4 linked regions of the Homo sapiens genome follow. The protein of the gene in region 1 purifies or fractionates together with the protein of each later gene. This does not show direct contact. Each region holds a gene or a part of one and is shown in the gene's direction. Other genes may lie near its edges. The genes, in order: PPP2R2C, CCT5, SERTAD4 and SIK2.

The links.
Region 2: the proteins of PPP2R2C (region 1) and CCT5 purify together in Homo sapiens (affinity purification with mass spectrometry; 5 studies listed by BioGRID and IntAct, with this or other methods). This does not show direct contact.
Region 3: the proteins of PPP2R2C (region 1) and SERTAD4 purify together in Homo sapiens (affinity purification with mass spectrometry; 5 studies listed by BioGRID and IntAct, with this or other methods). This does not show direct contact.
Region 4: the proteins of PPP2R2C (region 1) and SIK2 purify together in Homo sapiens (affinity purification with mass spectrometry; 5 studies listed by BioGRID and IntAct, with this or other methods). This does not show direct contact.

Annotation. Positions count from the first base shown.
Region 1 is NC_000004.12:6,469,365-6,477,508, reverse strand, and holds the start of PPP2R2C (protein phosphatase 2, regulatory subunit B, gamma), read left to right. Parts: upstream 1-4,894; 5' UTR 4,895-5,279; coding exon 5,280-5,349; exon of another isoform or gene 5,350-5,397; coding exon of another isoform or gene 5,398-5,425; intron 5,426-8,144. UniProt on the Homo sapiens protein: The B regulatory subunit might modulate substrate selectivity and catalytic activity, and might also direct the localization of the catalytic enzyme to a particular subcellular compartment.
Region 2 is NC_000005.10:10,253,039-10,260,375, forward strand, and holds part of CCT5 (T-complex protein 1 subunit epsilon), read left to right. Parts: intron 1-1,106; coding exon 1,107-1,167; intron 1,168-1,635; coding exon 1,636-1,800; intron 1,801-2,916; coding exon 2,917-3,115; intron 3,116-5,072; coding exon 5,073-5,265; intron 5,266-5,347; coding exon 5,348-5,497; intron 5,498-7,337. UniProt on the Homo sapiens protein: Component of the chaperonin-containing T-complex (TRiC), a molecular chaperone complex that assists the folding of actin, tubulin and other proteins upon ATP hydrolysis.
Region 3 is NC_000001.11:210,228,232-210,235,799, forward strand, and holds the start of SERTAD4 (SERTA domain-containing protein 4), read left to right. Parts: upstream 1-4,564; 5' UTR 4,565-4,780; intron 4,781-5,403; exon of another isoform or gene 5,404-5,654; intron 5,655-7,568.
Region 4 is NC_000011.10:111,597,324-111,605,563, forward strand, and holds the start of SIK2 (serine/threonine-protein kinase SIK2), read left to right. Parts: upstream 1-5,125; 5' UTR 5,126-5,240; coding exon 5,241-5,375; intron 5,376-8,240. UniProt on the Homo sapiens protein: Serine/threonine-protein kinase that plays a role in many biological processes such as fatty acid oxidation, autophagy, immune response or glucose metabolism.

The DNA of each region.
Region 1 (8,144 bases):
GTGATCCACCCGCCTCAGCCTCCCAAAGTGCTGGGATTACAGGCGTGAGGCACCGTGCCCAGCCTCCAGTTTTAAGAGAGGATGCTGGGTTTGGCGTTAGAGGTGATGAATGGCTAGAATCAAAATGACAATACCTCATTTAAGAAGGTTGTGGATCAACAGGGACAATCTTCTGTTACCTCTTTGGTAAACTGGTTGACGTCCATGACTAAAGCTAAACAAACAGACCCTATCACTCAGCAATTCCTAGAATTTCTTTTGAAGAGAATCTTGCTGTGTGGCCCAGGCTGGAGTGCAGTGTGGCACCATCCTGGCTCACTGCAACCCCTGTCTCCAAGGCTCAAGTGATCCTCAGCATCCCGAGTAGCTCGGACCACAAGCATGCACCACCATGCCTGGCTAATTTTTGCATTTTTTTAGTAGAGACGGGGTCTCCCATGTTGCCTCGGCTGGTCTTGAACTCCTGGGCTCAAGCAATCTGCCTGCCTCAGCCTCCCAGAGTGCTGGTGATATGAACTGCTGCACCCAGCCAGTTCCCAGAATTGTGTACACATGAATGCTGAGCCACAGAATTGTTGTTCATAATTAGCCTCCACACTGAACAAACAACCTATGTGCCCAACAACAGTGGGGTCAGCTGCAGTGTATTTCTGCCATAGAATATTACACAACAATGAAAAATGAATAAATTACAGTTACATATATATAAATAACATGAGTGCTTCTCAGAAAAAAAACATTGTGCAAATGAAAGCAGTTATGAAAACATTCCTACCTTACAATTTACTAGTAAACTAGTAAAACTACAGTGTTAAAAGTCAAGATGGGGGTTATCTTTGGGGTGGTGTCTTAGTCAGTTTGGACTGCTAGAACAAAAATACTGTAGCCTGGACGGCATAAACCACAATCTATTTTTCACAGTAATGGAGGCTGGGAAGTCCAAGGTCAAAGTGCCGGCAGATCCTGTGTCTGATGAGGGCTTCCTGATTTGTGGATAGCCAACTTCTTGTTGTGTCCTCATATGACAGAGAGAGAGGGAGAGGGACAGAGAGGGGAAGCAAACTCTCTCACGTCTCTTCTTATAAGGCGGCTAATCCCATTATGAGGGCCCCACCCTTGGGACCTAATCACCTCTCAAAGACCCCACCTCCTAAAACCATCACATTAGGGGACAGGATTTCAATATATGAATTTTGGGAGTCAACAGCTGTTCAGTCCATGGAAGTGGAGAGAGAGGGGAGTGAGGGAGGCCTCGAGAGGTGGCTAGCGCCCTTTCCTGACTTGGTGGTTAGATGAGTGTTTACTTTGTGGTCGTTCTTCAAGCTGAACAGTTAACTTTTGTGCAGTCGGCTTGGGCTGCCATAATAAACAAGATAGGATAAGTGGCGTAAACAACAGAAATGTACTTCCTCCCAGTTCTGGAGGCTGGAAAGTCCAACATCAAGGTTCTGGCCAATCTGGTTCATGGTGAGGCCCCTTCCTGGTTTGCAGGCGGCCACTGTCTCGCCGTGTGCTCCCGTGAGCACCTGGGGAGAGAGTGGGCAAGCTCTTTGGTCTCTTCCTATAGGGGCACTAATCTCTCCATGAAGACCCCACCCTCATGGCCTTGTCTAACCCAAATCTCCCAAAGGCCCCACCTGCAAACATCATCACATTGGGGGTTAGGGCTTCAGCCTGTGCACTTGAGGGGACATGGTGCGGTGCACAGCACACTTTCCATGCATGTTCTCTCTGTCAATTACAACAAGTTGGGGGCACAGAAGCACAGGGAGACATAGCCTGGTGGGGCCGTCAGAAGGAGTGGAGCATGTAAACCTGCTGAGAAGTGGCAGCGAAAGGTGGTGCCACTGAAGTAAAGGGAGGCGCATGGTCCACAGGGTGAGACCACGAGAACTCAGCATAGAGAGAGGCCAGCATGCGTCCACTGGTTCCAGGAACAGGAAAGTCATTCTCATGCCGTCTGACACAAGTTTCTTTTCTGGGGTGGGATGGATGGCAAGAAGCCAGGTTGGAGGGCACGGCAGTGAGTGAGGAGATGGCGAGTGTAGCTGTACCCTTTTGGCATTGTGGTTGTGAATGGCAGAAATGCAATGTGCTGGTGGCTGAAGGGACACGGAGTGAGGATAGCTTTTGAATGTGGAAGAGACCCAAGCAGGCTTACGCTGTGAGAAGCATCTGGAGAGATGCTGACAAATTTCACCTTATTGAGCTTTCCTCTACACTCACCTTTATAAAATGGCACCTCCTCCTCCCCGTTCCTTTCTATCTCCATCTCCATCCCCGCCTTCATCTCCATCTCCATCCCCATCTCCATCCCCGTTCATCTCCATCTCCATTCCCGCCTTCTCCTCTGCACCAGTCATGGCCCACACAGTACATGCTCACTTTATGCTGTCCATCTCACCCCACTGGGAGGCCAGCTCCACGAGAGCAGAGCATTTCTCTATTCTGTCTTCCACACTACCCTAGTGCTGGGAACATGCCTACACATAGTAGATGCTCAATAAACATTCCTCATTGAATGAATGAAAGTACAGAGAGGAGTCTGTACAGAGAGGCTGGGGGTGGCAGGATCTGGAGCTCAGGCTCTGTCAGCGGGGGCAGGGCTGTGTGCAGATACAGATGAGGAAGCAGCAGATTGTGTGATTTAGTGGAGGTGGGGGGTGGGCAGGGGGCTGAGGGAGAGTCCTCGGTTGTGCTGGAGGGGGAGGGCTTCCAGGAAATGGAGGAGACAGTGTGGAGGAGCCCAGACACTGCTTGTGGTGGGGGTGGGGCAGGATGGGGTGGTGAGGGGTGAGGAGGGGATGGATGCAAGCCTTGGGGCCCAGTCAGGTTGGAAAGACCACCCACTGCAGGGTCCCCAGCATGGCTCAGAAGCTGATGAAAGGGATGATGTACTGTGTCAGGCCAGAGTGGGGCTGTTTTCATTGTAGTCCAGGACATCCCGGGAGATGAGGCTGATGCCAGCATAGGGTGGGTGTTTTGGCAGGATTGACAGATAGGGAGAGGGGACTTCTCCATGATCAGAGAGGGAGGCTGAGGAACATGCGGGAGGGTGGGCCTCAGCATGATAACAAGAGAGCTCCCAGGAGGCCTGACCCCTGCTGAGCAGGACTGGCCACCCCAACCCAGTGGGGCCACTCCTGCCATCACATCCACTTTACAGATGAGGTTGTGCCTGGGCCCCCTTGTGGTCAGGACTTGAACCCAGCCTGTCTTTCTCCCAGCATAGCCATTTTGCTGGCTCCAGCTAGAGAGGTGAGGGGGTGTGGACAGAGAGTGGGGGGCTGGCCTTAGGATGTGAGGTGGGGGGCATGTGAGCAGACAGGTGAGAGAGAGAGAGGAGAACATGCCAGGTGGGTGGGGGCCAATGTGGGTGTCGGTCACTTTCCTACGGGGTAGAAAGTGACAAAGAACAAGCACATCCTTCCGGCCCTTGCATTTACCTGGTCCTTGAATGGAGTCTGCACAGCTGGGAGATTTTGGCTTGTTCCACAGTGAAAAGGTAGAGGCTGGAACAGGGCAGGGCACTTGCCAAAGCAGGTGCTGGCAGGGCCCCAGGGCCTCTCCCCAGGCCAGCCCTTGCATGACAGCCTGCAGAGTGCTGGTGGGGCTGCTGGGGGGCTTTCATCTCCTCATAGGTCCATTCTGGGGATTTCAAAGGCACGAAAGCTGTAGCTTCAAAAACTCCCTCTCAATCTCCAAGAAATCTGAGACGGCATCACCTTCCCTCGTCTTTCCCACAGCCCCAGTCTCCCTGCCCCCAACGCCTTTGGACTCTCCTACCTCCACTGCAGTTTGGGGAGCTGTCTGGAGTTCCCCCAGAACCATTTGAAACAAGTGGAGGCCATTACAGACCAGCCCCCACCTGGAGCATGGCTCCACTGATGCCTTAGACCCAAGAGCCCCTGCAGCTCTGGTCACCCCACTGCACTTACCCCTCCCAGGCAAGCCACAGAGTCCCTCGCTTTCCAGGAAGGCTCTGTTGAGCTCCTAGGGAGGGCTGATGGTTCCTCACCCACACCTCTGAATCCCCACTGGGGCTTGTGTCCCGTGCAGGGGACTGTGATTCATTAGGCGGTGGGTCACGGTGGAGGAGGTGGCAGCTTGGCAAAACAGGAGGCAAATATTTTTTGAGGGCCCACTATGTGCCAGGCTGATTACCAGAGGGAGGTTCCTGTTTGGCAGAGCCCTGGGTTTGGAGGGGAGGGAGGGAAGGGAGGAGGGGGACGCATTTTCCAGCCTGGTTTTGGAGGTACCTAGCTCTGTATTTCTTTAACTTTCTCACTCGTCAGGAGAGGTGGGCATGAGGAGAGATCTCAGAGCCCTGCCTGGGGGAGGCCCAATCACCCCTCCAGCCATTTCATCCAGTTTTGCCTTGTCGGCTGCTGGACCCCCTCCACCAGCTTCTTCACATGTACTTAATGCTCCCAACGGGCCCCAGAACTTGCGCGACCCACCCTCTTCTACTAATGAAGGGAGACAGTGTCCTTCCCCTCCCCCGAGTCCCCATTCTCCAGGTGCGCCCTCTTCAACTGCGACCCCACTCCTTCCTTCCTAGTCCTTTCTGCCTTCTGCCTGCGAGGCTGCTCTCCTCCTGCCCCCTTCCCAGCACCCCGGCTCTTGGCCTTCTCTCCCATAACTGGAGCACCTGGGCACCCAAGGTACCCTCCCCCCAAGCTCAGCTGATCACCCTCTCCCCGCAAGCTGGCGGTCTCCTTCCTCCCTCCCCCGTGGCGCACCCAGCACCAAGGTGCCCACCGCGAGGGCCCGAGCACGGCGGTGCAGCCTCGGCTTGGGCGCCGGCTCCACCTGCAGGGCCGCGGGGGCGGAGAGCGGGCGGCGCGAGGGAGGGGCCTGCGACAGCGGCGGCGGCGGCGGCCCCAGCCCGCGCAGCCCGGCTCGGCCCCGGCTTGGTCGGCGCAGCGCAGCGCCGCGCGCGTCCCCTCGCCGCCGTCGCCGCAGCCAGGCGCACCGGCACCAGGCCCCGCCGCCGGGCGCACGGACGCAGCGCGCACGGGCCGGCCGGGATGCGCGCCTGGGCCCCGGCCCGCCCGAACCCGCGGCCGCCGCCCGCCCACCGCGCGCTCGCTTGACCGCGGCGCCCGCCCCCGGCCGCCCCCGCCCGTCCCCCTGCCGCGATGCCCTCCCTTCGGGGCCCCGGCGGCCCGCGCCCCTGCTAGGCTGCGGCGGCATGGCCCGCGCGCCCGGCGCGACCTCTGCGGATTGCATCGGTGTGTGGCGGCGGGGCATGCCCAGAGCACCGGGCACGGCCTTCAATGGGCGAGGACACGGACACGCGGAAAATTAACCACAGCTTCCTGCGGGACCACAGCTATGTGACTGAAGGTAACGTACGTGTTGTCTGAGACCCCTCCGGCCGGCCGCGGCGTGGGGATGCCGTCGCACCGAATGCCCTCCGAAGGTTTGGACCGCGCGATGTGTGTCGTGTCCCCCCGCCCCACCCCACCCCACCCCATCCCACCCCACCCCACCCCATCCCATCCCACCCTGCCCGGGGCCCAGGAGGGAGGGAGCCCGAGGGTACCGGCCTCCGCTGCCCAGCGCCGGCACAGGGCAGCGCCCTCCTCCGCGCCGCCCTCCGGGAGGCAGCTTTCCTCTCCCAAGCCAGGTGGCATCCTGATTCGGCCCTGACCATAATTTTTTAAAAGGCCACGGCTGTGGCTAATCTGGTGAAGAAATCTCGGGGAAATTTAATGGTTTAAATCCTGGATTTGCCATTTCAGCCCTGCCCAAAGCCCGCAGAATTTTCTAGGCTGCCCTCTCCCTGGAGAAGAAGAGGGACCCGGGGGGAAAAAAACATAATCCATTGCCAGATCCTCCTGGGAGGCCCGCCTGCCCGGGCCCCTCCCTGTCCTCCAGAGGCAGGGTCCCTGAGTGGGAGGGAGAAGGCGGCTGGTTTGGGGCTGGCCTTTTTATTCCTGGTGAGTTATATTGAGACAGGAGCAGCTGGGCTAACTGTCGGGATTTTCCAAAAAAGTGGGACATGCCATCCCAAACAGGCCCTGTTTAAAATCCCCTAAGTTGGCCCTACAAGCCCAACCCCCACCCCCACCCTACCCCCGAGGCTGGTGGGTCAGCGCCCCTCTCTTACAGGCCTGGAACTTCCGGGGGCCCCCTGGTCTGCCTCGCTAGGGGAACAGTGGGGACAGCTTCCGTGCGCAGGCAGGGCCCGCGGAGTGACCCCGATGGAGGATGGGGACCGGGAGGTCTGGGCTCGGGGCCGCCTGTGCTGGAGCCCTGCCCGAGTGCGGGGACTGTCAGCCGCTAACCCACGGGCTGGCGGCCCGGCCGCAGAAGTGTGCGCGGATTCCCCGGGTGGGTGCCCCAGTGGGAGGGGCCCTGGGCACGGGTCCCGCGGGGCAGGTGCGCGTGGGTGCCTGTGTCAGGGAGACCGAGTGGGCCAGGCGGCGGAGACCGGGCTCCTGCGGCTGGGTCCGCCTCCTCGAAGCCTGGCTCTGCCGGAAATGAGGCCGAGCGGAGCCGGAGCCCCGCGGAGGCCCGGGGAGCGCAGCGCGAGCGCGGGCGCGGGCGGGCTCGGGGCGCCCTGGCCCGGGAGGCAGAGGCTGGGCGTGGGACCTGGGCGGAGGGAGGCTGCGGGGGCCGCGCCCGCTCCCGGCGGGAGAACCGCTGAGTCACGCACGCTTCGCCGCCGGGTGTGTGCGAGAGAGGGGCAGGGCTGCCCGGGCCTCCGGGCCGGTGGGGCTCTGACCCGGCCGCGGCTTTGGGAGGCCCGGGGAGCTGAGAGCGGTCCTTTGTCGCCTGCTTCGGCGAGGCTGAGTCGGGATCAGCGTGGGTCCGGGATGTGGTTTCTGCTCGCAGCCTGCAGCGACAGAGGGTTGGAGGAAGCCGCCGGGTTGCTGGCCCGTGCCTCGGTGGCCTGGCTCGGGCCGAGAGCGGATCTTGGCAGGTTGCCCCGCTGCTCCCAGGCTCGCTGTGGTCTGGCTTCCTGGAGCAAGCCTCTGTTTGCTCATCTCTACGTTGGGGATGACGGTGGGATGGGGCGCAGGGCTCGTTGTGGGACCAGGCGTAAAAAGCGCCATGGTGGACATTTTCAAACATTAATTCCCTCTGCACCCTGCCCGTCCCCTTTTCTTTCATAAATTCACCAGCCCTCAGCAGGGCACAGGAACGGGGACGGCACAGTTCTGGAGGTCAGAGCAGTGCTATCCAATCCTTCATCCAGACACGAGATATTTACCGAGCACCTGCTGCATGCCGGGCACTGTTTTATCCCTGGGGACTGGACAAAGACTCCCTGCCCTTGTGCGGCCTGAATTCTATCAGGGAGCTATATGACCTTGAGGTCTGTCTTCTCACCAGGGCTCAGTCTCCCCATCTGTAAAATGGGAGTGAATCCTGCCTACAGGGTCTGGAGGTTTCTGTGAGGAGCAGGTGCAACGGTGTTGAAGGAGCCGTTCAGAGCTATGCATTGCTAACGTGCAGCCAAAGGATGCTGAGCACCTGCTGTGTGCTGGGACCTCATACGAAGGCTCACCTACGCCTTATCCCCACCTTGAGATGAACAAACCAAGGCCTGGCCTTGTGCCTGGTCCAGACCGAGTGCCAGTGTGTGCAGGGCATAGGGCTCAGGTGCTGCGGATGCAGAGAGCAGGATCGGAACAAGAAACAATAATAATCATTATAATAGGTAGAATTCTGGCCTCCCTAATGAAAAACACACTTTCACACTGTTGCATCCTGACTATATTTCATGCTCAGAGCACAGGGAAGGTCACAGATTTGAATGTCAGAATGTCAGACTTGAATCATGTTAAAGTCCTGCCTCTGACTCCTGACTGCTGTGCAGCCTTGGACAAGTTACTACACCTTCCTGAGCTTCACTTTCCCTTTGTAAAGGGAGAAATAATAACGACCTTTCATACAGGGTTGCTGGGATGATCAGTGATTTTGCTAATATCAAAAGTGCCCAGCACAGTGCTTGGGTTGTTGGAGGCATTGAACACATGGCATTGTTATTATTTATATGCCTTGTAACTGGAAGAGCCTGTGGGCAAACAGTGGATGCTAAAATTCAGTTTGCGGAAGAACCAGGTGCACAAACTCCTGTTCTACCTGTGGTTGAGTCTACACTCCCCCACCACACCCCAGCTGCTCTGATC
Region 2 (7,337 bases), on another chromosome or scaffold:
GTTTCAGCCGGGCGTGGTTGCTCAAACCTGTAATCCTGGCACTTTGGGCAGCCAAGGCAGGTGGATCACCTGAGGTCAGGAGTTAAAGACCAGCCTGGCCAACATGGCAAAACCCTATCTCTACTGAAAATACAAAAAAAAATGAGCAGGGCGTCATGGCGCGTGCCTGTAATCCCAGCTACTGGGGGGCTGAGGCAGGAGGATCGCTTAAACCCGGGAGGCGGAGGTTGCAGTGAGCTGAGATCATGCCACTGCACTCCAGCCTTTTTGAGACACAGCAAGACTGTCTCAAAAAAAAAAAGGCCAGTCAGTAACTTTGATCTATAAATATAATTATTGGGATTTCAGGTGGGTGGAGGAAGATTTTTAAAGCAAGAGCAGTTTTTCTTTTTATTTTGTAATGGGGTCTCGCCATGTTTCCCAGGCTGATCTCAAACTCCTGGCCTCAAGCAATCCTCCTGCCTCAGCCTCCCAAGTAGGGGGGGTTGCAGGCTCTAGTACTGCATCCAGCTCAAAAGATTACAATTCTGCAGTAAATCATAGTGTGACAGTAAGGTGTTGTATGTTTACAGTTGGACTGTTTCTCATGAGTACAGGCCCCTCCTTGTCTGCAGATGGGGAACCCGCAGATGTACAAGCCTAGATGCAAGGGACTTGAGCATCTGTGAATTTGGGTATCCTCGGGGGCTCCTGGAACCTGTTCCCCATGGATGCTCAGGGAGAACTGTGGCTCCTGGAACCAATTCCCCATGGATGCTCAGGGAGGACTGTGTTGCACAGTGGTCTTGCAACGCCTGTAAGGTCATAGTCATACTGTCCCTCTTCTCAGCTGTAAATGGGCTGGTAAAAGAATCTGTCTCATTAATGTGTTGAAAATTCAGTGAGATAACACAAAGCACTTGGTTCTCTTTCTTTACGTAAGAATTGCTTATTAAAACTGGAGTCGTAAATGTTATAATACTTAAACCTGTCTGTTGCCCCTTAAATGTAGAAGCTTCTAGACAATAGAAACTAAGTCATAAGTGATTTTTGTAGTCATCAGATGTGTGCTTTTAACCATTGAAATTATATGTAACAGTGTTTGCTTTTTCTGTTTGTTTCATTAGTCTCATATAATGGCAGCAAAGGCTGTAGCAAATACAATGAGAACATCACTTGGACCAAATGGTAAGAGTCCACCATTCCGTGTTTTTTAGCAAAAGATTTAAATTATAAAACTGTCAATATAAACCTCTCTACAGAAAGGTGGAGTATTGAGGGGAGGCATCTTACTTCCTTAACACAGCCAAAATTTTTTAGTGTATTTCAGGTTTCTTAAACATGGTTATAATCGTGTGCAATATTAGGTCGGACCTTTTTTTTTTTTTTTTTAGCATGTAACATCATTTCATTAGCATTTTCCAAATCATAGTTGTCTTTTGAGATTAACATTATACTTAATGATGCTCCATAATGTTTTGCCAATTATGTTAGCCAATCTAAAAATGCCTTCATGCAGCTACTATTTTGTGTATGTTGCATTATTTGTATATAATAAATTGCACAGATAAGAGCTGGGTCAGGAGGTCTTGTTTTATAGTTTGTGATATTGGTTGCCAGTTTTTTGCGCAAAGCCTACTAAACGTTGTTTTTTAGGGCTTGATAAGATGATGGTGGATAAGGATGGAGATGTGACTGTAACTAATGATGGGGCCACCATCTTAAGCATGATGGATGTTGATCATCAGATTGCCAAGCTGATGGTGGAACTGTCCAAGTCTCAGGATGATGAAATTGGAGATGGAACCACAGGAGTGGTTGGTAAGAAAAGACAAAACATCCTTTCTCATTTAAGAGACGTCATTTAAGACCACAGGGCTAACATGCCTGCTGAGATTGTTGTCTCTGAATCAGAGCATGAGGAGACAGACAAATCCAAGTTGAAAACATGCTACAAAACAAATGTCGGACTTTCAAAACTGACAGTGTTACAAAAGAACAGAAAGAGGGCTGGGGATTGTTAGGCATGGAGAAATGTGTAATGATTGATTGGACACTGATTTTGCTTGTCTTTTAAGCTATAAAGGATGTTTGGGAAACGTGGAAGAATTTGATTTTGGATCATGTACTGCAATGCTGAGTTTCCTGAGTGATCTGTGACCATTATATTGCAGATGTGTAGGAGAATGCCCTTCTTCTCAGCTGTATACCTAAATACTTAGGAGTGACATGTCATGGTTTCTGTAACTAATTCTCAAATAGTTGAACAGAAACAGTATGTACATGTAGAGAAAATGTGGCAAAATGTTAATAAGTAAACTGGTATTCGTTTTAGTATTGTACCTTTTTTTTCTGAAGATTTGAAATCTTTAAAAAGTTGGGGAGATTGAAGACAAAATATCAGTAAGGTTACCTTTTCTGCAGATGAAATTTGAATTCATTCAACAAATATTTATTGGATACTATTGTATGCCAAGCACTGTTCTCGGTGCGCTTGGAGAGCTGTAGATTTAAACAAAATTCATCTTTGCGACCCTAAAATGAGGAGAAAGGAGGATGGGGGTGGGGGGAATAAATAATAAACACGTTTTAGTCTCATCACCAGGCTGAATTTCACTGAGTAGACCCTGGCCCAGGAAACATAATAGCTTTTTACCTCTTAGAAAAATGTTCTTTTTACATTATATTCTTTAGTTACGTTCTTCACATCACTGAGGGTTGAATGTTCATCTGTAAGGGGACACATGTCCTATTCGACCTTCGCTAGAACTAAAACGAGGCTTTCTTTTAAAAATAGAGGGCTTCTGCCTCTAAGATGACTTGCAGCTTAATTCTAGAAGCTGCTTCTTTCCATGATAGCATCTAACTTGTGCTGATTATACTAAAAGTGAAGTTTTGTTGTTTGCCTGAACTGATTGTCTGCTGGCTTATTTGCAGTCCTGGCTGGTGCCTTGTTAGAAGAAGCGGAGCAATTGCTAGACCGAGGCATTCACCCAATCAGAATAGCCGATGGCTATGAGCAGGCTGCTCGTGTTGCTATTGAACACCTGGACAAGATCAGCGATAGCGTCCTTGTTGACATAAAGGACACCGAACCCCTGATTCAGACAGCAAAAACCACGCTGGGCTCCAAAGTGTACGTTTCAGTAGATGATATGATTACCCATTTGTAGAGGAGGCAGTTTGTTTGCCATTTCTTAAAGGCAACACAAAATGACCACTGGTGGATTTGTATCGATTTGATTATTTGTTTTGATTACTTGGTTTTGCTTTGTTTTTAATGTAGATGTAGACAGATGCATTTTGTATTTAAGTTGAGAACTGAATTTCTAAGTTCAGGTATAAATCCCCTTGACAATATTTGCAAAATATAGTTATTTTAATTTAGCAGAATAGGTTGTGTTAAAAATCAGCTAAGGCTGGATGCAGTGGCTCATACTTGTAATCTCAGCACTTTAGGAGGCCAAAGCAGTAGCTTGCTTGAGCTCAGGAATTGAAGACCAGCCAGGGCAATGTAGTGGGACCCCATCGCTACAAAACAAAAAACTAGCCAGGCATGGTAGCACACACTTCAGCAACTCCAGAGGCTGAGGTGAGAGGTCGAGGCTGCAGCAAGCCATGATCATGCCACTGCACTCCAGCTTGAGCAACAGAGCGAGACCCTGTCTCAAAAAAAAAAAAAAGTCAACTAGAAAGGGTCCTACCTGGAGGATATGTGAATTTTCTTAACACTTCTTTCTATAATTTCTTTGCTGGGGAGCCATTGGGGGTGGGTTCCACTTTTTATTCAGCAAATTGCCGATCCAAAATTATAATTTAGTAAAGAGAGTCTTGAAAGCGACTTGTCTCTGGTGTTTTCAGCGTTCGTGTAATGTCCGTTTGCCAGGCTTACTGCCAGGTCTTATGGGCACTAAGACACAGCTCTTCTCCCAGGAGACTCTAAGCAACCTCAGCCAAGGGGTGCGCTGATTATGTACAATGCCAAAGACTTAAGGTCTGTTGCCGTAATATAACATAAAAATCCAGTGTAAGCTGCTTTATTACATTATATTAAATCAGTGAGAGATGTTTTCAATTGTGTGCTTGTGGTGGTTTTAGCAAAAAGGAATGAGGGATCTTCTAAACTCAGAGTAGTCAGGGAAAATGCAGGAAAAGTGTCTGCTTCTGTTGCCTTTTCCCCTGAGCAAAGCCTATGTTAGAGCAGAAGCCTTCAGCAATGCCTGCTGTCCTCCTCTAACCACAGATCTCAGCAGAGACTAGCTCCCTAGGCAAGAGTGAGTACCCTAGGGGTAGCCTCTTGTCACAAGTATAACACTTATTTTCTCATGAAAGGAGGACATCATCATTACTTGAAGTGTACAAATCAGTTTTCTTGTTGCTTTATAAGTTGGCCTTGTTCTGTTTGCAAGTATTAAGTCATCTACTTAAGATACAACATGTTTACTTTCATGGTTCTCTTTTATAGATAACCTGTGATTTCAGACATTATTTCAAGTGCTAGGTTTCCCTAGTTGTTTTTCTTGGCTCAAAAATTAATTTATTGAACTGTCTATTCACATGTTTCAAAGCTTTCAAAAAGGTAACACCCTCCATCTATAATGGATGTTGTGGTGAATTCTTGGAAAGTTTAAATGCCCTGTCCAGTCCTTTCAGTTCCTGGTTAGTGCTACACTTCATTGAGATAAGAGTGACTCTTCCTGAGTGATTACTTACCTTTCCCATTCTGTTCTGAACTTGTAAAATAGTAACAGTATTCTGTAAAAGTGCTGCATTCTAAGAAGACCTTAATTCATGCCAGACTACAGTGGTTTCTTGAGTACATTCATAATGGAAGGAAATAGTAAATTTCAGAGTTAGCGAAAATAAAGATGTAATTTTTTCCTATCTAAGTATACAGTCCCCTTTAGGGCCCATGGATCACAGGTTAAGAATCTGCCCCAGACTGTTGAAAATGCAGGTTGAGATGGCATTCCCCTCTAGAAGACTCAAAACATCGTTTGATTTATATCTTTGAGTAACATTGTGTTATGTGGCCTGCTTTGGTTGCAGTAATTGTGAAACCAATGAAGTTTGTTTTGTGGTGTTTTCCTCAGGGTCAACAGTTGTCACCGACAGATGGCTGAGATTGCTGTGAATGCCGTCCTCACTGTAGCAGATATGGAGCGGAGAGACGTTGACTTTGAGCTTATCAAAGTAGAAGGCAAAGTGGGCGGCAGGCTGGAGGACACTAAACTGATTAAGGGCGTGATTGTGGACAAGGATTTCAGTCACCCACAGATGCCAAAAGTGAGCCATTGCATCTCACAGCTTCGCACTGTTGGTTAACTCTTAATTCCACCAATTAAAATGTCTTTATGTTCCCCCATAGAAAGTGGAAGATGCGAAGATTGCAATTCTCACATGTCCATTTGAACCACCCAAACCAAAAACAAAGCATAAGCTGGATGTGACCTCTGTCGAAGATTATAAAGCCCTTCAGAAATACGAAAAGGAGAAATTTGAAGAGATGATTCAACAAGTAAGTCTTACCAGAGTCCTCAGTGGAATTTAAACTCCCAAAGGGTACAGTTAGTTAGGTTTGGTTAGTAAATATGTGTAGTCTTTCTTCAGTTCTAAAACATACACAGGAAAAAACCAAATTGCATAGAAAGGCATAAACAGGGAAGAATTCTAATTTTGTCTTAAAATGGTAGCGTGTTCAGGCCAGGTGCAGTGGCCATGCCTATAATCCCAGCACTTTGGGAGGCTAAGGCAGGCAGATCGTGAGATCATCGAGACCATCTGACTAACACGGTGAAACGCCATTTCTACTAAAAACACAAAAAATTAGCCAGGCATGGTGGCAGGCACCTATAGTCCTAGCTACTCAGGAGGCTGAGACAGGAGAATCGCTTGAACCCAGGAGGCAGAGGTTGCAGTGAGCTGAGCTTGCACCACTACACTCCAGCCTGGGCGACAGAGCAAGACTCTGTCTCAAAAAAAATGGTAGTGTGTTCAGGGTCCTGAAAGAAGTGACCCTGTTACCTAAAGCCGTGCTTTCAATTGTACATATTATATTTGCCGTCCTGGACAAATTTAACTTAGCTTACCTTGCCTTTAAGATTTCTGACTATACCTTTTAGGCAAGAGTTAATGAGTAACTGGAGTTAAACCAGAATGCACTCATAGTAATCCCAGTTCTTTGCTCAGTTAAGTCTAGTTTGGGTTCATGAATACCTTAGCGTAGGTGTGCTTTCTCTCTGACATAGCAACTCCTCTTTGGGGGCTGCGTCCTTGGGAGTTGAAAACACCAGTACTCAAGAAGACAGGAACGTGGGTTGGTTAGGGTATTATTTATCATAGCAAACCAACTAGAGACTATTTTCATGTCTGTTCTTGGGAAAGTTGTTGAATGTACTCATTGATGATACGGTTCTTGGTGCCTACGACATACCAGGCTCTGTTGTAGGCACTAAAGGTACAGCAGGGAATGAAGCCAAGCTCGTGCTCTTGAGACACAGATAAGAGAAAGGTGGGTACAGCTCCATTACAGACACTGGTCAGAGAGGTGACCTGTAAGGAGAGGCCAACATAGGGTGAGAGCAGTGCCCCTGGGGGAGGAGCATTCCAGGCTGAGGACAGATGGGGATGCTCCTGAGCCAGGAACATTGTTGGCTTGTACAAGGAAGAGCCAGCCTCAGGGATTGAAGCATGCTGGCGGGAGCTTATAAATAAAAGGCCATCATCTGGGCCGGTGGGACAGTTTTCATGAGAATGGTGCCTCAGCTGTGCTGGGGGGCCACAGATAAATTGAGAGGCCAGGGATGTTACTGGATCGTGCTGGTGAGGCGCAGGTTGCTGAGAATGAGAAGGGAATGACGATGGGGCTAGATAGTAAAATGTTAAAGAATGAGAGGCAGGGACCCAAAGAGGAACACTGCAGGTGACTGAGGAGCAAGAAGGACCCTCTCCTGTTCTGAGCATGTGAGAGGGAAAGCAGCTGCCATCTGAGGAGGGTTGCAGGGGCAGGTTGGTTTTCCGGGGTTGTGACGGAGAGATTGTATAAGGAGGCTGCTGTTCTGGACTGAGTTCCAGAGGGTCAGGGAAGGAAGAGAGGGAGAGCCAGGCAGTAGCAGGTAGCCTGGGAGGCCTGATGGAGACAGGTAAGCCAGAGTTGTGGGGCACGGTGTGGCAGTCCCAGGTGAGCACCAGAGGTGGGGTGGGCAGCCTGATCGTTGCCCTCCTAATTGGGAAAAGTGACTTTGCCATTTGCAGGTCGGGGTGAGGGTGCTTCTTACTGGAAGCAGGGTTGCCTCTGTGAGTGCCCGAATTAGTTTATGGATCCACTGAGGATTGTCCACTCAGGTGAGACAGTCAAG
Region 3 (7,568 bases), on another chromosome or scaffold:
CAAGCATAGTGGTCAGGGCTTATTAAAAAGATGATACTTGAGCTGGGATGTGGAAGAGGTGGACATGTATCTGTGCAGCTATCTGAGGAAAGAGCACAAAAGGAAGAGGGAATAGCCAGTGCAAATGTCCTGAGGACAGCAAAGCTGGCTGTTAGAGGAACAGAAAGGAGGCCAGAGTGGCTGGAGTTGTTGGAGGCAGAGTGAGATCAGAGAAATAAAGAGAGACTTCTAGTCTTTGCAGGCTATTACAAGAACATGGCTTTTATTTTGAATGGGGAGCTCTAGGAAGAGCCTTGGCAAAAATTGACACCATTGCTGTTGACCCGAGATTGAACTAGAAAGAGGGCCAAAGATGTAAGCAGGAAGACCAGTTAGGAGGCCATTGTCATATCCTAGGCAGAAGATCATGATGAAAGCGTGGACCAGAATGGTGGTGGTAGAGATAATGAGAAGTGATCAGAGTCAAGAAATTTTTTTTTTTTTTTTTGAGATGGAGTCTCACTCTGTCACCCATGCTGGAGTGCAGTGGTGCGATCTTGGCTCACTGCAACTTCCGCCTCCCAGGTTCAAGAGATTCTCCTGACTCAGCCTCCCAAGTAGCTGGGACAACGGGTGCATGCCACCATGCCTGACTACTTTTTTTTTTGTACTTTTAATAGAGAGGGGGTTTCATGATGTTAGCCAGGATGGTCTCAATCTCCTGACCTCGTGATTCACCCCCCTCGGTCTCCCAAAGTGCTGGGATTACAGGCATGAGCAACCGCGCCTGGCCGAGTCAAGAAAAAATTTAAAGGTAGCCTCTCAAGGACTTTCTGATATATTAGATAAAGGAGATGAAGTAAAAAAAATCAATGATGACTCTAAGGAGTTTTGTCAGAGCAAGTAGAAAAATACTGTTGTTTATTGAAGGAGACTATTAAAGGTGGCATAGGTTGGGAAAGCAGAGATAATAGGGGTTGAGTTTTGGGTCTGTAAAGCTTGTGATACCCATTAGGCATCTACACAGAGTCTGGAAGTCAGAAGAGAGTCTTGGCTACAGATATGAATTTGGGAGTCATCAGAATATAGAGAGTTTTGAAGGGAAGAGACTAGATGAGATCCACAAGAGAGTGACTGTAGAGAAGAGACAAGGTGCAAGGACTGAGCTTGAGGCAACCCAACATCCAGAGGTCCTAGATAAGAGGGGGAACCAGCAAAGGAGACTGAGAGGAACAACCAGTGAGGCAGGAGGCAAATCAGGTGGATGTGTTGTCCCAGGAGCCAAGATAAAGGCGTTTAAAGGAGGAGGGAGTGGGCAACTGGGTCAAATGCTGCTTAAGGGTCAAGTTAGATGCAAAATGGCCTTTGGATTTAACAACGTGGAGGTCAGTGGTGACATTGACCAGAACAGTTTCAATGGAGTGATCGGATAAGAAAGCCTCAGTGGAAAAGGTTTGAGAATAGAAGAGGAATTGGGTGCAGATGCTTCTTTTTGCCATTAAAAAAATGTTTTTTTTTTTTTTATTGTTGCTGTTTGTTTTTTTGATGGATTCTTGCTCTGTTGCACCCAGGCTGGAGTGCAGTGGTGCGATCTTGGCTCACTGCAACCTCTGCCTCCTGGGTTCAAGCTATTCTCCTGCCTCAGCCTCCTGAGTAGCTGGATTACAGGCGCCTGCCACCATGCTCAGCTAATTTTTTGTATTTTTAGTAGAGGCGGGGTTTCGCCGTGTTGGTCAGGCTGGTCTCAAACTCCTGACCTCAGGTGATCCACCCGCCTTGGCCTCCCAAAGTGCTGGGATTATAGGCGTGAGCCACCGTACCCAGCCAAAAATGGTCTATTTTTTTAAGCCAGTAATTTTAACTTTCAATTAATCCAAGTGGGTATTGTGTCCACAACAATCTGAATAAGTCAAATTTTACTTGTGAAATCCCCCTATCAGACAAATGACAAAAAGGTTTTGTGAAATGGGTTTCAGCAATTTTAAGTCTGAAAGTCTCTTTGTTAAACAAAGGAAAACAACCACTGCCTTCAGTAAATTTGCAGCTCAAAGTATTATAAGTTTTATAATCAAACTTCTATTTGGAGCTTCTCACACACACACACACATACACACACACACACACCCCAAAATGATGACATCATAGTTGTCAATTAAATATTGTACCTCATTATAAATAACAATTACTCATTCCAAATTTTTCATTATTGATTTATAGTTGGTTCTTTTTTCATGCCATAGCTACCACATAGTCACCTTAAATTTGTAATGAGGTTTCTCATTCCATAGACATTTGTCTGCCTCTTGTACTTGTAGACACAGGTTCATGTTGTCAACAGTTGGGTATTGAATCTCAAAAAACATTAAGCTTAGGATTAAAGGTAGGGCAGGGAAAGCTGTCAGTAAAACATGCTAACCTAATGTATCTGATGAGGACAGGGTCTAGTTCATACTCAGAACTGCAAGGATGCTGTGAAGTACAATGATTTGATACTTGTGATACCATTTTGTTGTAACATTAAAGCCAAGAGTCTTCTCCACCCAAGGGCAATGCCAGTTTCCCAGAAGGCTCATTTCTCCGAGCCAAAGCTCCAAAGATGCCAGTGCACCCATGCTGATAACTTAGTCTCATGTTATTTCTCAATTTTATGCTTAATTTGCTCCTTTTGATTTTATGTATTTTCACACAGCCAAGTGTACATGGGGATTTACCCATAGTCCTTTAAATGCCATAAAACTTTAATATAGGGAGATAAAAACCATAATAAGCCATGCCTCCAAACCCTCACATTTAGTTCTTTTGAGTTTGACAATAACCAGTTTTAGATTATTTGGAAATTTGGATTTCTACGTACTTGCACTGCTTTAAATGCCCTTGTGCCTTTCCTAACCCTCCTCTCCCACCCAGATGAAAATTATACTCTACTCTTAACCTGGACATGCAACTTCCATTGACTGCACAAAATGGCATCTTTACAATTCTTAAATTATCATCATAATGGCCCACATCATGCATGAGCCAATGCAATTTAATATGGTTCAGAATAAAGCCAAGATGGATGCCCAATTCCCAATTTTAGGCATGCAACCCTGGAATGTCTTTTGGAAAAAATGAAATAATGCTCTTGGTAGGCTGTTGGGTTCATCTGTTTTAAGCATAATTGCCATCTCTCAGCTTCCTAATACCCTTAAAACCTCTGAGAGTCTTTAATGTACAAAGTTCAACAAAAACACCTTCAAAACAAATTAGTTCTAATTATGTTTAATATTGGTTTGCTGCTTTATTGAATAATCTACATTTGCTTTTAAAAAAAGGAAATTCACTTAACTGCATGTCAGTCACCCAAGTTTTAAGTGTACAAATGAAATGGAAAACATTTATTACACAAATTTAATTACAATTCTAAGAAATAAACATGCAAATTAGATAGAGTTCAATTTGCAGATGCTAATCCTCATCCTTGATCTTGTTCCTTCCTCCCTTGATTTTCAGTCTGTGCGTCTTCTTGATTCCTAGGGAGCCAGGCAGCCAGAGGTCTGGTTTTTCACAGTCGGAGGATCACTGTTTTAAAGAAGTGTTATATTTAGCACATCTGGTATAGTGGCAGTAAACAAACATTATAGTCTTTGTAACACTTTTGTGCAGGTGCCTTCTCCCGATTTTATTAGGTCTATGCCTTCCAAGCCTCTGCCTTCATTACACCTGAAATGACCCATCTCGACTATGGAGGGGTCCCTAGACAGAAGTTATGAATTAATGATTTTAAAAAATAAACTCTGAGGCCACTATAGGAGAAAATTACTATTTGCAAAATATTCTGATTCCAAGGCTTAAATTACATTCTCTTGAGCAAGGACAATCTCTTGTATTACTTTTTATTTCCTGGAGGTTTTCCCTGGAGGCTCCCCACCCAGAAAGGGTTGCCAATTCAAGTTGCAGCAGGACCAAGGTTGCTTTTTTTTTTTTTTTTAATACGTACGCAGCTCAGGAGGGAAACGGGCGGGGGCGGGCGGCGAGGGAGAATAACTGTTTGGTCCTGCAAAGACATCTGTTTCTCATCTCCGTTTGCTGTGGCAAAGGAGAAGAAAGTCTTTTGCAAAGGGTGGGAAAGGCACAGATTTTTTTTTTAATCACACGCACACACAACAACAACAAAACTAAACCAAATTTAAAAAGACAAGATATCTCGGAAGGTTCCAGAGTGAATACATTATTCGGCTGGAGCCAAGCCCCCAGGGCTAGGGCGGGAGCCCGAGAGCGCGTGGGGTCTGGGCTGCGGGCTGGAGCTGGGCCCGCGTGTCCCCGGGCACCGGGAGGGGAGGGGAGGAAAAGGAGGAGGGAGGGCGGGAAGCAGGGAAGGAGGCAGGGGGCGGGCTGGGGTGGGGGTGCGGGAAAGGCGCCCCGTGTGCAGCCTGAGGAGCGGCGGCGGCGGCCTGAGCAGAGGGAGGGAGGGAGAGCGGGCGCGCTTGTCATGTTCCCTCTCTCACCCTGGGGGCATCCTGCAGAACCTCTCCTCGGAAATCCACGGGGAAATGGCAAACAGGATTGACGGGTTTCACACGCTCCTCGCTAGACAGAGCCGCTCATTACCATAACCGTCTGCAGCGACGGCGGCGCAGCGCCCCAGTCGCGGCGGCGGGACCTGCCGGGACCCTTGCCCGCCGCGCACCCGCAGTCACCGCCGAGCGGGCGGCCGGGCCGGGACCCGCGAGTGTGCACCGGCGGCCGGGCTGGCGCCGAGCCCAGAGCGGACCAGCAGCAGCTCAAGCGCTGCGGCCGCCGCCTCCCCGCTGACCCCGCGGTAAGAGCCGGGCTGGGCGCGGGCCGCGGGGGCGGGAGGGCCGGGCAGGGTGGAGGGCGAGGGCCCCCCGGGGCTCCTGCCCTCGCAGACGGGCACCCACGCGGCCTCCCGCGCGCCCTCTTGGCACCAGGGCTGTGCCGAGGTCACCGAGTGGACTCGCAGCGGCCGGAGCGGAGTCGGGGCGGCGTGGGGGCCAAGGCACAGCTGGGCGCGGAGGCGGCGCGGGCTTTTCCCTGGGCTAGCGTGCGCCGCGGCGCCTTCACCAGGGCGGGAACCGCCGCCTCCTCTAGGGCTGCTCGGGCTGCCACCCGCGCGCACCGAGACAACTCCAGGGGCGGGTGGGGTCAGAAGCTCTGGTGAGACCTCATGGTCCTCCGTGGCCGCTTAGTCCCTCATCGTAGGGGAAGGGGTTAAGTAGGAGGGGTGCCCCCAGGTCCGGATGCCGCGGCGCTTGGCAGGTGGGGAGAGAGGGATTGTGGATGTCAGGAGCGCGCGTTTGCAAGAAAAAGGAATTGATGCAGTAGCTGACACCTTCTGTCCCCCGCCACCTCCGCCCCCGCACCCTCCTCCCAGGCAGCAGAGCTGCGCTGCGGGCGGCGGCGGCTCCTCTGTCCTCAGCTCACCTCCTCGGCGGGCTGAGGCTGCTGCCCGCCTGGTCCACGCCTCCGCCTCTCGCTTCCCTTCCTCCCCTCCCGCCTCTTCGGCCCTAGCAACTTTCCGAGTGCCCAGCTGTGGTCGCAGAAGCAGGGAATAGGCGTCCTCGCCGCCAGGTCCCACGGGCGCAGGGCGCTCCCGCAACCGCGGGCTTCCAGCGGGTTTGGCCGGCAAGGGAGGGAGGGAAGGCCGGGCCGACATCTGCTGCGGGCTGGAGCGCGGGGGCCCGGGCCAGCCCCGCCAGAGCCCTGCCAGCCGCTGTGAGTCATTTCCTTGGAATCCTACCTTTGGTGTTTATTTCCCTTAGAAGGAAACTTGGTTTTTTTTTTAAAAAAAAAAAAGGATAAGACATAAAGAATAATAATAGCTCTTATTCTTCAGAAGAGGCACACGGCTGCGGCACCGTAGAAAGACAACTTGCCTTTGTTCCCGGACACTTGGGGTGTTGTTTACTTTCTCCTGCGGCCAGCGGCCGACCGGGCGCTGCTGGCTACCCGGGGAGGGGCTGAGGGCTGCGGCACCGACACCCCGGGGGTGTGTCTGTGCGGGAGCCAGGATGTGGTTGGTGGCTGCCGCCCGCCTTCAAGAGGTCGGCCCTCCAAACCTCGGACCCCACCCCCGCAACCGCCACACACACACACACCTTGGGCACCAGGGCTCGGGCATCGGAGCACCCCTTCGTGCTCTTTAGGCCCAGCACCTGCAGCCCCAACCACAGGACCCAGCTTCAAGCTCTTGGCCTCGCGGGGCTGCAGCTGAGAAATGTACTTCCCAGGGCAGACAGGTGTACTGCAGGAACGGCAGAAAAGCGACATCTGTTTGTTTAGAAGGGTTGAAGAATTTTGTTCCGCCCATCCAGTCCCTTCCACTACCACCACCAGGAGCCGGACAAGCTATTGAGATCATTTTGGGACAATGTGGAGGTCAGGGGCTTGATGCCATTTAAAACTGGCAGCATCGATCGGGGGTGGAAATAGCCCTTTACTTCCCTGCTTTCCAGTGCTGGAATCAGACTGCTAACTGCTATAATGATCTTAATCAAATGCTCTCCAATTTTCAATGACAGATGGAAGAAGAAGTGAGCAAAGAATGACCTGGAGCCCCTTGTTAGATTCAAGGTGCCGCTGAATTCATAGCTACCCTGTTTTGTGTGCCAGCCACTCCTATTAGCATCATAATTGCTTCTAGGAAAGAACAAGCCCAACTCATCTGGAAAAAAACAAATTGTATAGAAATGCCTGGTAACTTTACTACGAACATTTGCTGGAAAAGCTTGGCATTCTAGCCCTCAGTCTTCTGGGGATGCTGGAAGTGTCATTCCACTACATCCACCTGGGTGTCAAAACAGACATTCAGGAGCCTGAGGATGAAGGGTTAGGGCTTTTTTTTTTCTTATCTTTTAAACCCATGCATAGACAAAACACACTCTAACACCCTCCTGTTGAATCCATCACCTCTGATCTTAGAAAATAAATTTTGCCATAATGTATATCCTTTTCTTTATTTAATATTAATAGAACACGAATTTGTGGACTTGAATTGCTGACGTCAGTAGCAGAATTATAAATCTTATCAGACAGAGAATTATGACAGTTTAGATCTCTACATATAATACGAAGAAAGATTCACGTTAAGCATTTGTGCTTAACGCTGCCCTGTCCAATTTTTCGTGAACATTCAACTTGCCTTCTTAATTTGTTAACATCCAGTGTAAGTTTTAAATAGACTAGGAAGACTCAATTGCAAAATCTCCTCCCCGCTCCCAAATAATCCCAACTCATTCATGTTTTATTCAGATTTACATAAATCACTTGCAGAACTCAGCCTCTCTAGTTTAGGGTTTTGTGTGTAACAGTTCTCAATTTAAAAAAGAAAAACTTAGTAAAATTAGATATTGTGAACAAAATAATAGCCAAGATAAATACTGTTATGCCATGTTTCAAGTTCACGTGCATAATAGGATATGCTGGAAATAATGCTAACAAATAGAAACGCTGAAATTCCTCACAACCAAAAAAGGTACTACCAAAAAGTTATTAAAATATAAACAAACTCTGACAAACATAAAACAGCACAGGGCCCATATAATGTCCTGTTAAACAAAAGTAATTGCTGCCAGGAGCCTGCAAATGTT
Region 4 (8,240 bases), on another chromosome or scaffold:
TTATTACTTTGATTGTAGTGATGGTTTGACAGGTGTATGCATATGTTCAAACTCATCAAATGGTATATATTAAATGTGTGCATCTCATTATATATTAAGTACACCTCAATAAAGCTATTTTAAAAATAAAAGTACTAAAGAAAGTTTTCTTTAAATAACTTCAATCCTCTAGTTTATTTCCATAATGGTACCTTACATGTAGTGGCATCCACATGTTGATTAACCTGACTGATTGATGTTTGTTTCATGAATAGCTGTACTTTATACTAATAAGAAGCCCTTGGAATGAGCACAGGTCAGTGATTTGGATTTTCTTGTGTACTTCTGTCTTTGTTAATATAAGAGGCAAAGTATTCATTCTAGCTTTGTAATCTACTTTTTCTAAGCAAAGTTGTCTAATAAAGATTTCATCAGTTTTTTATTTGAACTAAATCTAAATCCAGGCCTAAGCCTAGTTTTTTGTTTTGTTTTGTTTTGTTTTGTTTCGTTTTTGAGATAGAGTCTCACTCTGTAGCCCAGGCTGGAGTGCAGTGGCGCGATCTCGGCTCACTGCAAGCTCCGCCCCCTGGGTTCACACCATTCTCCCACCTCAGCCTCCCCAGTAGCTGGGAGACAAATGGTACATATCTTTTTTTCAGGTTCACAGGCTGTCTGCTTCAGCAAAATAATATACAGAATTGTGAGCCATGAAGTCTTCTTTCCTCACATTTCAGATCACTTTTTCATTACCTCTTTGCTAACTCGTCTCCTCATTCCACATATTTATTTATAATCCACTTTATTCTAAGTAGGTTATAGAATTAATTCTTAAGTCTCTCACTATCTTACTTAATTCTTTCTCTGTGTACACCTTTTTACCTTTTAAAGTGTTCTGTTAACATTTTTTAACCAACTCAATGCTAAATATCATAGACCCACAGCATCAGCTGGGAATGCTGCATCTGAAAGCTCAAGCAAAAAGGAATTTGGTGACTAGAGTGCTTTCCCTCACTGATACTAAAACCAGAGACGGAAAAGAAAGATGGGGATTGTATGAAGCTCTCTTTCTTCTCCTTTTCCCTCTTATCTTTATTCTTTTTTCCTGAGGATGGTGTGTGTGTGTGTGTGTGTGTGTGTAGGGAAAGAGAAAGAAGAGGAGAAAGAGGGAGAGAGGAAGAGAAAAGGAAAGCAGGAGTTGGATAATATTAATAATTGCTAAAATGTATACAGCTATCATTTAATTGGAAACAAAAATACATAAGAGACAGGCAGGGTTGAAATAGGACAGGGATGAGTAGGTCTTTTGGATTAAGGAAAGAGTTGAATCACAGAATCCAAGATTGCAGTATTCTAAATTAGTCCACATATATGTATTTCTTCAGGGTTTCATTTACAGCCTACCAGTAACGCTGAGTAGCACGCCCACTGCATTTCCACATGAGTAAGGCTGATTTTTGGCACAGCCCCTTCTGTCTCTTCCCTCTTTCTGGCCTCCTGTTCTCTAACTTGTAGACACCCAGCATGCTCACACTAACTCCAGCTTTCCAAAACCTTTTGGTACTCTCTGTCCTCCCTTTTTCTTCTTTCCAGCCCCAAATCAATTCTTATTCCCAGACTGTGCAAGTAGGTGTTTGGCCTGGTTATCTAATTTAAATACTCAAATGAATCCATTTCCATTCAACAGGTATACTTTAAAGGATGAGGTTGTTCACTGTAGTGGGTCTCCCTGCGTATTTTCTGGTTCTTGGTTAAGTGGCTTTTCATCAGATTCCCAAAGGAACCCACCCCCAGAACAATTAAAATACAATCATCTGGCTGGGCGCGGTGGCTCACGCCTGTAATCTCACCACTTTGGGAGGCCAAGGCGGGCAGATCACAAGGTCAGGAGATCGAAACCATCTTGGCCAACATGGTGAAACCCCGTCTGTAGTAAAATACAAAAAATTAGCCAGGCATGGTGCTACGTGCCTGTAATCCCAGCTACTTGGGAGGCTGAGGCAGGGGAATCGCTTGAACCCAGGAGGCAGAGGTTGCAGTGAGCTGAGATCATGCCACTGCACTCCAGCCTGGCGACAGAGCAAGACTCCACCTCAAAAAAAAAAAAAAATACAATCATCTAAGTGGCAAAATGCACATGGGAACTATTTTTGAACTGGTATACATATGTAGGTTCCTAGCCTAATTAGAATACCTCTCACTAGTTAGAGGACCACTCATACACCACTCCCATCAATTCAGAAATCTGATCAGCCTTACAGCTTTCCCCCATTTCTCCCCTCACTTTTGCAAACAACATACCTCATGGTAGAATAAGGTATTGCTTGGGGAGAGTGAAAAGCAGAAGCACAGGGAGCAGTGGAGGGCCCAAAAGCCATCTTGCACTAAAAAATATATATATATAAATTTTAAAATAAAATAATACACAATATATTAATTTTCATTAAAAAATTAAAACTACAGAAAAGTTGCAAGAACAGTACAACGATCTACCACATACCCTTTTACCTACCTTTTACCTATTTTATCAATTTAAAACTTTGCCACATTTGCCTTATCTATCTGTGCTAAACTACTTGACAGTAAGTTGCATATATCAAAAGGTTTTTTTTTGTTGTTTTTTGTTAGAGTCTCACTCTGTCACCCAGGCTAGAGTGCAGTGGTATGATCTTGGCTCACTGCAACCTCCGCCTCCCAGGTTCAAGCGATTCTCCCACCTCAGCCTCCAGAGTAGCTAGGATTACAGGCGCACCACCACCCAGGCTGGTCTTGAACTCCTGACCTCAAGTGATATGCCCACCTCGGCCTGCCAAAGTGTTGGGATTACAGGTGTGAGCCACCACGCCCGGCCAAAAATTTTATACCTAATTGTTTAGTGTGTATCTCCTAATAACGGATACTCTCTCTTATAATCACAGTACAATTATAAAATTCAAGAAGTTTAACACTGAAACAGTATCTTATCTAATATGTAATCCATATTCAAATTTCAGTAGTTGTTCTGAAATATTCCTTTATAGCATGTTTTTTCAAGACCACATGTTGCCTTTAGTGCCATGCCTTTTTAAATCCCTTAAATCTAGAATGGTTCCTCAGCCTTTCTTTGACTTTCATGACACTGATGTTTTTTAAGGATACAGGTCAGTTGTTGAGTAGAATGTTTCTTAGTTTGCATCTTTCTGATGTTTCTAGATCATAATATGCATTTTTGACAGGAATACTACTTAAGAGATATTGTAACCTCAGTGCCTCACATCTGGAGGCACATCATGTCATTTTATCACATAATTGGTGACATTAACTTTGATCATTTGGTTAGGGTAGTGTCGGTCAGATTTCTCCACTGTAGAGGTACCCTTGTTAACCCTTTATCATGAATAAGAAATCCAAAGACTGTGCAAATATCTTGTTCCCCAGCCAAATTTTATTCAATGATTTTAACATCTATTGATAATTGTCTGAATCCATTATTACTGTAATGGCTGCCAAATGATTTGCTAATTGTCATTTCTTCTAACATATATTAGTTGGCATTCCACCGTCATTTCACTTCTCCCCTCTTTATTTTTCTGTTTAAAAGTAAGTATGCTCTACGATTCTTTTAAAAAATTCAATGTGTTAGAATCAATTTCTATATTTATTTATTTATTTATTTATTTACTGAGACAGAGTCTCGCTCTGTCGCCCAGGCTGGAGTGCAGTGGCACGATCTCGGCTCACTGCAACCTCTGCTTCCCTGGTTCAAGCAATTCTCCCTGCCTCAGCCTCCCGAGTAGCTGGGATTATAGGCGCCCACTACCACGCCCGGCTAATTTTTGCATTTTTAGTAGAGATGGGGTTTCACACAGGCTAGTCTTGAACTCCTGACCTCAGGTGATCCACCCGCCTCAGCCTCCCAAAGTGCTGGGATTACAGGCGTAAGCCACTAAGCCCGGCCCATTATTTATTCCTGATACTCAAACTGTCTCAGATTTGGTAAGGGGGGAGCACCTTCGAGCCATCTGCTTTCTTTTGACATATCTTCCTTGACATAGCCAAGAAATCTCCTTGCTTTAAGGAGCAGGATCTTTCAAGGGCATTTTATACTTTCCCTGTCTCTGCCCTCGAATGAGCCATCTCGCCACGGAGTCTGGCTCCTTTAGGTGGAGAATGGTATTTAGAAACCAAGATATAAAGGCATATGATACATCTCAAAATAGTGAGGTGTCACTGTCCCTGTTTCCTTGAGTCACATTTGGAAGCGTGGTGTGATTTATAATCCTACCTCGACTATTGCCTGTGTGACCTAGGCAATTCCCTTTATTCCTTGAGGTCTTCTTCGTCCTTTGGGGAAAAAAATTGGATTAGAGAAATATTTCTAAACTTTTTCAGAGTCACCAACGCGTTTGGGAATCTGACAGAAGCTACGGGTCCATCTCCCCAGAGACATGCTCACATAAGCAAAAACTGGCCTGTGTTTTAGGGGGTTCCAAACTCTGAAGCTCACATGAGGCTCCAAATCTCTGGATTAAGTGATCTCCAAGATCTCTTCAGCGCTGACATTGACATTCTGTGAGTCTATAAGCGACTGCACTGCTGTCAGAATGACTCCTCGGAGACATCAAAACGTGGAGGGTTTTATTATATATAGCAACGAGAAGAGAAAAGGACACAAAGAAAGGAGCCTGTGAGCAACGCATTGCTCAGCCACAGTTCTTTGCCGGTGCCAAATTTAGGACGCGCTGTACTTGTAGGTGAGAGGTTTTGGCGGGAAGGACCCCGGGTGGGCGGAGAACGCCGGGGCGGGGAAGGAGATCGCAGGCCGCATCCAGGTCTCTGCACCCCTCCGCACGGTCCGCCAGGGCTCGCTCTTGCCCTTCGCCTGGAAGGCCGAGGAACGGAGCGGGCCGAGCAGCGACCCCGCCCCTGGCAGCGGTGAGGCGGAGGGGCGAGGGGAGGGCGTCTGAGCCCGGAAGGAGCGCGCCGGCCAGGCTCGCGCCCCTCCCCGTGCGCCGTCCCCCACTCTCCAGCAGCCGACGTCGGCGGTGCTTCGGTCGCCATGGTGACCAATCCAGGCTCGGGCCCGCCCCCGCCCCCCTGCCCCGGCCCCCTGACGTCGGCGCACGTCAGCGGCGGCGCGCGCCTGGCTGGGCCCTGGGGAGCGGGAGGGAAGGAGCGAAGGAGCGAAGGAGCAAGCGGAGCGGCCGTCGCCCAAGCCAAGCCGCGCTGCCAACCCTCCCGCCCGCCCGCGCTCCTGTCCGCCGTGTCTAGCAGCGGGGCCCAGCATGGTCATGGCGGATGGCCCGAGGCACTTGCAGCGCGGGCCGGTCCGGGTGGGGTTCTACGACATCGAGGGCACGCTGGGCAAGGGCAACTTCGCTGTGGTGAAGCTGGGGCGGCACCGGATCACCAAGACGGAGGTGCGGCCCGGGGCTCGGCGGGAGCGTCCGAGGCGAGGGTTCGGGAGAGGAGCTGCTTACCGAGAGGGGCGGCCGCAGTGGTGGGACCGGGGAGACCCGAGAGGCCGCCTCACTGGCGGAGGCGAGCGGGCCTGGGACTGTGAGGACCCAGGAGGTGCAGGGGGTCGGTGAGCAGCGAAGGGATCGGGCCCGGGCACCCGGACCCGAGTGTCGTCCGACTGGAAACGCAACCAGCCGGGGCTTTGCTTTCCCCTACGCCACCCCCGGTGGCCACCCGGAATTTCGCCCAGAGCCCCCCACCCGGGCCGTGACCTGGTCTGTGGCCTCCGCTCCGGAGCCCAAGTTCCGCGTCTTCCCTGCTTTCGGCTGGGGGTGGGGTGGGAGGGGAAGTCTCGGTGTTCCCAGGCTGCGCCGTGAGAGACGTCGCCGGCCCGAGGAGGGGACCGCCTGCGCTTGGGCTCCGCGGATGGGGGATCGTGCGGCCCCCGTGACCCCGGCGCCCCTCCCCTGCCCGACGAGGAAGGGCCCCATGGCTGGGAATACCCCCACGGCCACTGTCCATCTCCTCTCCTTCCTTTTGGCCCAGGGTGTCTCTGATTTGGTGTCTGGCTAGCTTGATCTCTTGCCTGGGGCATTTCCATTTAATGCCCCAGACAATAGAACTGGTTAAAATGGTCATCTCTGCATTTGCACGGTGGGTGGATTGGTCTTCTACTTGTCTAGGGTTGTCACTGTACCAGGTGTGCATTCTGGCTGTAATACGCATTCTTTAAACCATATCAGATTCTGCCTCTACTCATAAAGCCCTCAACTGCTTCCTGACGGTGAATCCTGCACCCTCTTCATTGCACATTCTAATGCACCGCACATACTCTCTCACAAGTCTCTGTTCTTACCTAACCCGCCCCCCTTCCTTCCACTGCCTCAAGCTGCTCTCCTCAGGGTCTCTATTTTAAGACGTGCAAATTAAATACCTTAGAAGAACGGTAGAAACAAAACCATTCTTTAGAATAAAACCTAGTGGTTTTGACGTACTCTACTCTGCCTTATTGTAGTTCCTCCTGGAGTTTCATCCTTTTCCTGTTTGTTTGCCCTCCAGTTTTGGTCCTATTCTGCTTTTTCCCTTGTTAGTACGAATGTACTGGAGTTTGAGTGTAGAATAAAGTAGGACTTCTTTTCAGAATGACTTATGTAAGGCGAAGGGCACTTGCAAACGTGAGTGATTTTTGGAGTTGCAGTTGTACTTAGAAGTTTTGCTTAATCCCGTTTCCAAAAGGAAGGGGTATATGTCATTCTGTCTTCTTTACTTTTTGCCTTCCCCTGCTGGTCCTGAACCAGTCCAAATCTGACTTATCTTTTAGAATCAGGACCAAGGTCAGATATTTTCTTCTCACAGATTTACCAGTTAGCAATTTAGATTGTTTGTAATGATAATGATAACTTGACTATAGTGATATTGTTAAATCTTAATCTGATCCCAGCATTTTTTAAAATGAAGAAATTGGTTCCATTCCTCTGAAGAGCCATGGCCTATGCCATGCCATTTCCCTTTAAGTTACATAAAAGAAGGCATTTTAAATGCATGTTTTATGAGTCCTTGCTTAATGACTTTCTAAAAACAAACAAATTGTGAGTTATAGAGAGGTTCTACAAAACTTTTGAACTGTAGTATATCGTGTGGTTGAATTCCAAATCCATCAGTTCTTAATATTTTTTTCTCATCAGCTCTTACTGGGATTAATAGCAAGATTTAATTAAGTCATCTATTATTTATCAGGTCAAATTTAGTTAATACAGTAAGAGCTGCTTAAGTGGAGTGATTGACACTTTGAGGTTGACAATTCAAATGGTGTCCGTTTTAAACTAATATATCTTAAAGAGCTAGGGGGCACTATGGAGTAATACCGTGGTTTGGCTATCAGAGTGAGATCAATGCATTCATTTGTAATTGGAACAAGCACCGGTCAGATCGTGAAAGAGGACTTAGATCCTAAATCGTGTGTGTAGTATATATGTGTAAAATGATTTACGTTAAAAGCTAAATGTTTAGTCCGCAGAACCCATTTCCCTGTGCTTTTCTAAAGAAGCTGTTATTAACATATAAAAAGAAATAGTGTGAATTTGAGATGGGTGAGGGTATCTGTGGTAATTTGGTGGGTGTGATTGGAGATATTAAGGTAGAGAGGGATAAGTGAAATGTCAAAGCAATCTTTGAACAGAAAAGTTCTCTGGATCTCTAGGTTGTAAAGTTGCTCTGAATTTTTTTTTTTTTTTTTTGAGACGGAGCCTCGCTCTTGTTGCCCAGGCTGGCTGGAGTGCAGTGGTGCGATCTCGGCTCACTGCAACCTCTGCCTCCTGGGTTCGAGCGATTCTCCTGCCTCACCCTCCCAAGTAGCTGGGATTACAGGCGCTCACCACCATGCCCGGCTAATTTGTGTGTTTTTAGTAGAGACGGGGTTTCACAGTGTTGGCCAGGCTGGTTTCGAACTCCTGACCTCAAGTGATCCACACGCCTTGGCCCCACAAAGTGCTGGGATTACAGGCGTGAGCCACCGCGCCTGGCCCAATTGTTTCTTAAAGTATTCCATGGGAGTAACAATTCCATTGTTAATGATGTTTTTTACAGCAGTTATTTATCCTTATTCGTTCATTCACTGGATAAATGTTTGTGTGTTTTTGATAAATACAACTACCTTAAAAACTATAAGATGTTTAATTAAAACTTTTGTTTTAAATTCAGTTTTCATGGCAGAACATACTACAGTAGTTATAGTGGAACAATGAATATGGTATAAAAATAATATCAGCAAAATATCACAATTATACTTATTGACGATAAAAGTTTCTTTATATACTATGCTTTAA